Homo sapiens: one gene and its partner. The protein of the gene in region 1 interacts with the protein of each later gene in a pairwise test. Each region holds a gene or a part of one and is shown in the gene's direction. Other genes may lie near its edges.

Region 1 (5,240 bases):
TGTGTTTTTCCTAGAAGTTTTATAGTTTTGCATTTTACATTTAGGTATGTGATCCATTTAGAGTTAATTTTTATGAAAGGTATAAGGTCTGTGTCTAGATTAATTTTTTTTTTGCATATGGATTCCTAGTTGTACCAGCACAAGTAAATGTGATTTTTAAATTAATAGATTATAAATTGCTTAGAATTGAAAATGTTTTTATTAAAATTTTTATTACATGTTCTGCAAAATTACTTACTGTAAACAGTTGAGAAATGACTTAGAAACCAATATATAATACAGCATGTACTGTGTGCTGAGATTTATTTCTAGACATTGTACATAATTCATTTTCCTCTTTTTTTTTTTTTTTTTTTTACTAACTCAGAGATGCTTCTTTGTGAAAATGGAATTGTTAGTATAGAGTAACATCTGTCAGTTCTTTTAGATCTTATCATAGGGAATAATAGTTTGATTTTTCACAAAAAGGATCTGGAATAAAGGATTTGCAGGGTGTATGTTGAGAAGAGGCAGTTGATGTATGCACCAGCTAGAAATCTGAGACTTAACTATGTGGTCTTGAATCTTTTCCCATGCTATTCTTCCTGCTACAAGTGACTTTTTTCAAGTACAGTTGACCCTTCAATAGTGCAGCGGTTAGACTCACTGACCCCTGCACAGTCAGAAATTTTTGTATAATTTTTGACTTCCCAAAAACTTAACTAGTAACCCTTCTGTTGACTGGAAGCCTTACTGATAACACAGTCTGTTAACACACATTTTGTATATTATATGTATATTACATTGTATTCTTACAATAAACTACAGAAAAGAAAATTTTATTAGGAAAACCATAAGGGAGAGAAAATCCAGTACTGTATTGTACTTATTGATATTGTAAGTTTTTGTTTGCTTACCAGATGACTCCTCTTTCTGAAAAGGTGGGGGAATGGAGGGGCAGGGCTGGGAACTGCAGCTGCAGACCTCAATCTATGGTACATACCAAGCAATTCAACTTTATCTCTCATAATGTCATGACTTTTCTCTGTTTCTTGGGAGCATTTCTGGCATCTCTAGTGGCACGTTTTCATTCAAGGTTTATGGTATTGTACCAAACAGGATGAAAAATACAAGAGAACACCAAGAAATCATTTTTTACTGTGATACACAATTTACCGGAGAGATGAACTGCTCACGCAGAGATGATTAACATCACACAGTGGACTAAGCGGTTACTCACAACACTTGAGCTCGCTGCAATAACAACAGGAGGTGGCTATGAAATTATTACAGTAGTACAGTATGTACTACAGTTAATTGTATGCAGTTAGGACTTAATACTGCATCTTTACATTTGTTTACATTTCTCTTGACCGCGAATGATACTATGTATCGTGTGTGTGTAAGTTTTGATAAATTTTAATTTTTTCTAATAAATTTTATGGTTACTACCATAAAATGATAAAGTAGACTAGTATTTATATACATATTATGCATTCATGACATACCTAACTTTTTTCTTAATGTTTTTGTTATCCTGGCTACGTGGTTTGTCTGTGTTTTTATTGTATTTATTTATTTAAAAAAATTTTTTGAGACAGAGTCTCACTGTCACCCAGGCTGGAGTGCAGTGGCGCCATCTTGGGCCTACTGCAGCCTCAACCACCCAGGCCCAGGTGATCCTCCCCATTCAGCCTTCTGAATAGCTGGAACCATAGGCATGTATCACCAGGCCTGGCTAATTTATTTTTATTTTTATTTTTTGCAGAGACAGGATCTCTCTGTGTTGTCCAGGATGGTTTTGAACTCCCAGGCACAAGCAGTTCTTCCAAGTTGGCCTCCCAAAGTGCTGGTATTACAGGCATGAGCCACCACACCCAGCCCGAGTGTTTTTAAATTGTCACAAATCTCCAAAAATTTTTCCAAATATATTTATTGAAAAAAATCTGTGTATAAGTGGACCCATGTAGTTCAAACCTGGCTTTTCAAAAGTCAAATGTACCTCTCTTTTGGTATACATTTTGTGTTATTGATATTGTGATGTACTATAGTTTACATATTTGTCCTCTCCAAAACTCATGTTGAAATTTCATCCTCAATGTGAGAGTGTTGAGAGGTGAGGCCTTTAAGAAGTGATTGATCCATTCATGAATTAATGGATTAAGGGGTTATCATGGGAGTGGGACTGGTGGCTTTGTAAGAAAAGGAAGAGAGACTTGAGTGAGCACATGAGCACACTCAGCCCCCTTGCCCTGTGATGCTCTCTGTTGTCCTGGGATTCTTGGAGAGTCCCCACCAGCAAGGAGGCTCTTAGCAGATGTAGCCCCTCGACCATGGACTTCTTAACCTCCATAACTGTAAGACATAAATTCCTTTTCTTTAGAATTACCCATTTCAGGTATTCTGTTATAAGCAACAGAAAACAGAGTAGGACAGGATTAGAAATATTTATAATGTTGCACTAAAGTTAGAACCAGTAGTCTTCAAGAAGCAGGTGGAGCAGCTCACATAATAATAGTACCTTTTGTGTGGCAGGTGTTACATACATTATCTTCTTTCACTGTTACAAGAGCCCTTTAAGGCATGCTTCTTTATCTCAGAATTACAGATAAAGGAATAGGCCCAGAAAGAAAAAGTGACTTGTGTCACACATGGGGAGAAAGGGACCGAATTGGGATGAGAACCCTGACCTGACTCCAAAATCCATGCCCTTTCCACTTGGTTGTGCTGCCCTTATTAAAGAAAAAGGGCAAGGATGGCCAGAGTGTCCTTAATTACATTCTTTTATTTAATACTGTGCTATATACTTGCTCAAATTACTACTGTGCCAAACAAGAATAGCGAAAAAGTTTGTGTATTTAAGCTCCACAAAGATTCTTCTAGCTTTGTTTTCTGTTGACTCATCTGTATCCTACTGACCAGAGGTATGTGGTGATGGAACACGGTTGTTTTAAAGAATGAGGATCTTTTAAAAAGAAACATTTGTGGGGAATTAGACAAAATAAAGCAAATAATGGTAGCATTAGCTAGTTATTTCTTTCTTTCCCTCATTGTATTTAAAGCTTCTCAAGGGCAGGGAACTGAGTCAGTTAAGTTCCCTGATGTATTTAAGGCCAACATATGACCATATGTGTCAGCCATATGACACACTCACAAAAGGCTTGCTGAATGAAATTAGCACTTATTATCATATTTTTACATAAATACTTAAAAGGGCATGAGTTTTCCTCACATAGGAAGTTGAGCATTACTACATTTCATTTGTTTATTCATTCATCTTTTATCGAGTGTTTGTTGAGTATCTGTTCTGTGCCAGACACCAGGAATACAAAGATGAGTAAGACAGGATCTCTGCCTTTTGTTGTCAGAAGGCTCAGAGAATGGAGGCAGCCAGACACCCGTTTTAGTACAGTGTGGAGCTGAAGGAAGTATATATTAAAAAACAAACAAACAATGGACTTTGGAATCAGACCTTATCTGCCTTGGTTTTCTTATCAAAGAGGTGGAAATGTCAAGTAGGTACTATTATCCATGGAGGATGTTAAATGAAAAGTGTGTATGCCTGTGTGTGTGTGTGTGTGTGTGTGTGTGTGTGTGTGTGTGTGTGTGTGTTTATCCCAGCACATAGCAGAAAGGAGAGCCTCACTGTGGCCGAGGGAGTCAGAAAAGTCTTTACTGGGGAAGGTGATGTTTGAGTCTCATAGAATGAATTTTTGAGGCAAAGCGAGACGCTCATCTCTCTCCAGGTAGAAAGATGAGCATGTTTGACATGTGCGGAATAGGTTGGCATGATGGGAGTGGTGGGAAATTCTGCACATTCCCACATTCAGAGCTTACGGGAGTATTAGAAAGAACTGAATGAGCAGTTATTTTTCATTTTTGTAAGTAACAATACAATAGAGTATTCATTACATTGTAGCAGAAGAGAATAAAGATACCAAACCTGTTTAAGAATTGCATAAATCTTCTCTTCTAGTCACATGGCCTTCTAAATGTAGCTCTTTATGTAGCAAACAAATTCATGTGTTCTTTTTCAGTCCTGTGATACTCAAGTGATTATATGGAATTTAAGAAAGAGAACTTGCATGTTTTTGGGTGAAATTGGAGGTCCTGTTTCAAACCATTCTTACATTTAGTAGCATAGCAACAAAAGAATGTAATAATCTATGAAGCCAGATCTAGTCCTGTTTAAGCCTGTCTAAAATTCTAAGCCATAGTTTCTGAACAGAACCTGAAACATACTATTTAGGAATGTACTAAAAAATAACTTGTTAAATGAATTATGTGCTTGATAAGAGATCAGAGTTCTATAATTGAAAAATTGTGTTTTTAATATAAGGGGAGAAGAAAAAGAGAAAGAAAAAATAGTGAGAAAAAAGATTGATAGAAGGAAGAGAAGTTTGTACTTAAATGAGGGAGAAACATTTTTCAAGTCCCTTATTGAGGGCTGTTGAATTATCTTCTGTTAACACCATTAGAATATTACTAAGTTATTCCTTATTATAGAAATACATGTATATTATTGAGATATTTGTTGGTTTAATGCAACAATAGAATGTTTCCAGTATCTGAAGTGGAAAAACAAAGCTGCAAATAAAAATATGTGTAAAATCTGTCTCTTTTGAGAAGACATTGATTACAGTTTATCTAATTTTCTGCAATAATTTTGACATTTAAAGTTGATGGTAATTTTAGACCTGAATGTACAATAAGATGATTTTAAGTGCTCTTTTAGAATTTAAAGAAAGATATACTTTTGATGATAGAGATAGAAGATACTTTTAACTGCTTTGCTAGTGAAAAGTCTGTTACATTTTGCTGGGCAAGGTGGCTCACGCCTGTAATCCCAGCATTTTGGGAAGCCGAGGCAGGCGGATCACCTGAGTTTGGGAGTTCGAGACCAGCCTGACAAACATAGAGACGCCCTGTCTCTACTAAAAATACAAAATTAGCCGGGCTTGGAGGCACATACCTGTAATCCCAGCTACTCGGGAGGCTGAGGCAGGAGAATTGCTTGAACCCGGGAGGCAGGAGGTTGTGGTGAGCCAAGATGGCGCCATTGCACTCCAGCCTGGGCAACAAGAGTGAAACTCCATCTCAAAAAGAAAGAAAGAAAGAAAGAAAAAGTCTGTTACATTTTAAAATCTTGGTTTGCCTTCTTTTTTGGGGACTTGGATTTCTTGAAATTAATTTTGTGAGTAACTTGGTAAATTGATGACTTATTTTCTGCCTGGGCATGCAAACTCTGCATTTGATAGTTT
Region 2 (3,962 bases), on another chromosome or scaffold:
TCCCAGCACTTAGGAGGCCAAGGTGGGCGGATCATTTGAGGTCAGGAGTTCGAGACCAGCCTGGCCAACATGGTGAAATGCCATCTCCACTAAAAATACAAACATAAAAATAAAAAAATTAGGCTGAGCATGGTGGCTCACACCTGTAATCTCAGCACTTTGGGAGGCCAAGGCAGATGGATTGCCTGAGCTCAGGAGTTTGAGACCATCCAGGGCAACATGATGAAACCCCGTCTCTACCAAAAATACAAAAAAATTAGCCAGGTATGGTGGTGGGCGCCTGTAGTCCCAGCTACTTGGGAGGCTGCAGCAGGAGGATCGCTTGAGCCCCGGAGGTGGAGGTTGTAGTAAGCTGAGATCACGCCACTGCACTCCAGCTTGGGCTACAGAGTGAGACTCCGTCTCAAAAAAAAAAAAAAAAAAATTAGCCAGGCATGGTGGTGGGCGCCTGTAATCCCAGCTACTTGGGAGGCTGAGGCATGAGAAGCACTTGAACCTGGGAGGTGGAGGTTGCAGTAAACCGAGACCGTGCCACTGCACTCCAGCCTGGGAGACAGAGTGAGACTCTGTCTCAAAAAAAAAAAAAAAAAAAAATTAGCCGGGCGTGGTGGTACATACCTGTAATCCAGCGACTCGGGAGGCTGAGACAGGAGAATTGCTTGAACCCAGGAGACCCAGGAGCCACAGGTTGCAGTGAGCTGAGATCATGCCACTACACTCCAGCCTGGGCGACAGAGTGAGACTCTGTCTCAAAAAAAAAGCATCTTAGCAGGTGGGAACCTGGTCAGACTCATGCTCTACAAAGCTCTCTGGCTGCTGTGTACGGAGTGGGAGAGGATTGCAGGCAGCCCTGAGGGAGCTGGGAGACGAGGGAGGGGCTGTTGCAGTTGTCCAGGTGGGAGGTGGGCAGCGGGCCCGCAGTCGCCCACAAGGCAGCACCATCTTTCTATCTGTTGGCCCATTGGTGGCTCTCAAGAGTTCCCTGGTGGGCAGGAAATGCTGAGGCTCATGCCCATACCTGCCCCTGCTTTCCTCAGCCCTTGGTGCCTCTTCTGGGCCCTCCCTGGCTGCTCACCCTTTGGAGCACATTTCCCTGGCCACCTCCCACGTTGTCGTCATATCAGTCCTGCCTTGATGGTGGGCACTCCCTAGCCAATGTGGCTTCTGCCAGAGAGTGGGTACCTGGAGTGCCTAAAGCATCGGGGAGGGTTTAGGACTTCAGTGTGGTTCTGAAGGTTGGAGACACTGTGGCCAGGCTAATGGCCAAGACCATGAGCTTCCGGAGGATTGAGCAGCACCATACTTCTGTCCAGGAAAGGCAGGGAGGCTCTCAGACCTTGTATTTCAGATGGGCTTTGCTGCAGAACAAACCACCCCCAAACTTACTTGCCCCAAAATGGCTCGAAACAACCAGTTTATTGATGCATAATTCTGTGGGTAAGCAATTTAGGGGTTAAGTGCAGCTGAGCAGTTCTTCTATTGACCTTGCTTTGGGGTCATCACTTAGTAACTTAGCTGGGGCAAGAGGCAGTTAGATGGCCTCACCCACGTGTCTGGCTCTCGGCTGCTTACCTCTGCAGCACTGTCCAACAGAACTTTCTGCAGCGATGGAAATGTTCTAGGTTTCTGCTGTCCAACACAGTAGCCACTAGCCTGGCAGAGCTACTGAGCACTTGAAAGGTGGCTGCTGGCTGGACGCCGTGGCTCACGCCTGTAATCCCAACACTTTGGGATTAAATTTTGTTTAATTAACTTAAATTTATTTATTTATTTGAGATGGAGTCTTGCTCTATCGCCCAGGCCGGAGTGCAGTGGTGCAATCTCAGCTCACTGCAACCTTTGCCTCCTGGGTTCAAGTGATTCTCCTGTCTCAGCGTCCCCAGTAGCTGGGATTACAGGCACGTGCCACCACACCTGGCTAATTTTTGTATTTTTTTTATTAGACATGGGGTTTTGCCATGTTGGCCAGGCTGGTCTCGAACTCCTGACCTCAGGTGATCCGCCCACCCTGGCCTCCCAAAGTGCCGGGATTACAGGCGTGAGCCACCATGCCTGGCCTTGTTTAATAATTTAAATGTAAATAGCCACATGAGGTCATATTGGACGGCGCCGGTCTGGGCCCTCACCTGGGATGGCTCATCTCTGCTCCACGTGGCCTCTCACCCTTTGGAAGGCTAGACTAGCCCCAGGGCACCCCCAAGCAGGTAGAGGTGGAAGATGCAAGGTCCCCCGAGGCCTAGACTCACCCAGAACTCCTACAACATTGCTTTTGCCACCTTCTGTTGGTTAAAGCAAGTTGTAAAGCCAGTCCAGATTGAGGCCAATGGAGATTGAAAAAGTCGAGCTCTTGCCAGGAGAAGTGCCAAAGCCACATAGCAGAGGTGTGTGTGTACAGGGAGGGGAGGAATCTGCAGCCATTTTTGGTAGTCTGTCTCATCCAGGTTCCAATCCCAGTTCTACCACCCTGAGCATCAGTCTTCTCATCTGTACAGGATTAATACCATTGATTGAAAGATGCGGCCAGGCGTGGCAGCTCATGTTTGTAATCCTAGCACTTTGGGAGGCTGAGGCAGGTAGCTCGCTTGAGCCCAGGAGTTCAAGATCTGGGTGGGCAACATGGCGAAACCCCATCTCTACAAGAAATACAAAACTTGGCCAGGCGCAGTGGCCCACGCCTGTAATCCCAGCACTTTGGGAGGTCGAGGAGGGTGGATCATCTGAGATCAGGAGTTCGAGACCAGCCTGACCAACATGGTGAAACCCCGTCTCTACTAAAAATACAAAAAATTAGCTGGGCGTGGTGGTGGGTGCCTGTAATCCCAGCTACTTGGGAGGCTGAGGCAGGAGAATCGCCTGAACCCGGGAGGCCGAGGTTGCAGTGAGCCAAGATCGTGCCACTGCATTCCAGCCCCGGTGACAGTGCAGGACTCCGTCTCCAATAAAGAAAGAAAGAAAGAATTACAAAACTTAGCCAGGCACAGTGGTGCACACCTATAGTCCTGGCTACTTGGGAGGCTGAGGTAGGAGGATCACTTGAGGTCGGCAGGTGGAGGTTGCAGTGAGTTGAGATGGCATCACTTCACTCCAGCCTGGGTGATAGAGTGAGACCCTGTCTCAATAAAAAAGAAAAAAATACCATGAATTTTTTATGTACGAGTAAGAAAATATGTGCTGCTAATTATACTAGTTCAGAGATGTTAAAATCTGCAAGCACGTCCGTGTTAGAATCCAGAGAATACGGTTGAGCACCTGCCTTATGGGGCTGATGTACAGATGAAATAAGCTCACACTGTTACCTGGTAGGTACTCAAAGGGAGACATCACAGTCAGAAGACCTCCGTTCTGGTCCCCACTCTGCTGTCACTCAGCATGTGACACTAGGCAAATAGCCTCCCTTCTCCAGGCCTGTTTTCCCATCTGCAAAGTAGGGGTGGGTGGGTAACTAGCAGCTGTCCCCATGCCCCAACTTTGCCACAGCTGCTGTATGACCATTCTTTGCAAACTGTAAAGGGCTGTGCCTCCTCCCCCACTTCCCTCCCCTGTTTGTCCTCCAGCCCTGCTCCCTGCCTTCCTCAGTACTGGTGGTTGGGAAGCTGGGAGCTCGGGCCCCTGCCCTGCACTGAGTCTTCTTCCCTGCTCTCCCAGGAACCTACAAGTTCCAGAAGACAGAGCTACGGAAGGAGGGCTTTGACCCGGCTATTGTGAAAGACCCGCTGTTCTATCTAGATGCCCAGAAGGGCCGCTACGTCCCGCTGGACCAAGAGGCCTACAGCCGCATCCAGGCAGGCGAGGAGAAGCTGTGATTCCCCCCATCCCTCTGAGGGCCGGCGGATGCTGGATCCGGAGCCCCAGGTTCCGCCCCAGAGCGGTCCTGGACAAGGCCAGACCAAAGCAAGCAGGGCCTGGCACCTCCATCCTGAGGTGCTGCCCCTCCATCCAAAACTGCCAAGTGACTCATTGCC

The links. Proteins that work in one complex are often made in the same cells at the same time.
Region 2: the proteins of EPS8 (region 1) and SLC27A4 interact in a two-hybrid assay, tested with the Homo sapiens proteins (one large-scale study listed by BioGRID and IntAct).

The regions. Positions count from the first base shown.
Region 1 is NC_000012.12:15,778,833-15,784,072, reverse strand, and holds part of EPS8 (epidermal growth factor receptor kinase substrate 8), read left to right. Parts: intron 1-5,240. UniProt on the Homo sapiens protein: Signaling adapter that controls various cellular protrusions by regulating actin cytoskeleton dynamics and architecture. Depending on its association with other signal transducers, can regulate different processes.
Region 2 is NC_000009.12:128,356,689-128,360,650, forward strand, and holds part of SLC27A4 (long-chain fatty acid transport protein 4), read left to right. Parts: intron 1-3,645; coding exon 3,646-3,803; 3' UTR 3,804-3,962. UniProt on the Homo sapiens protein: Mediates the levels of long-chain fatty acids (LCFA) in the cell by facilitating their transport across cell membranes. Appears to be the principal fatty acid transporter in small intestinal enterocytes.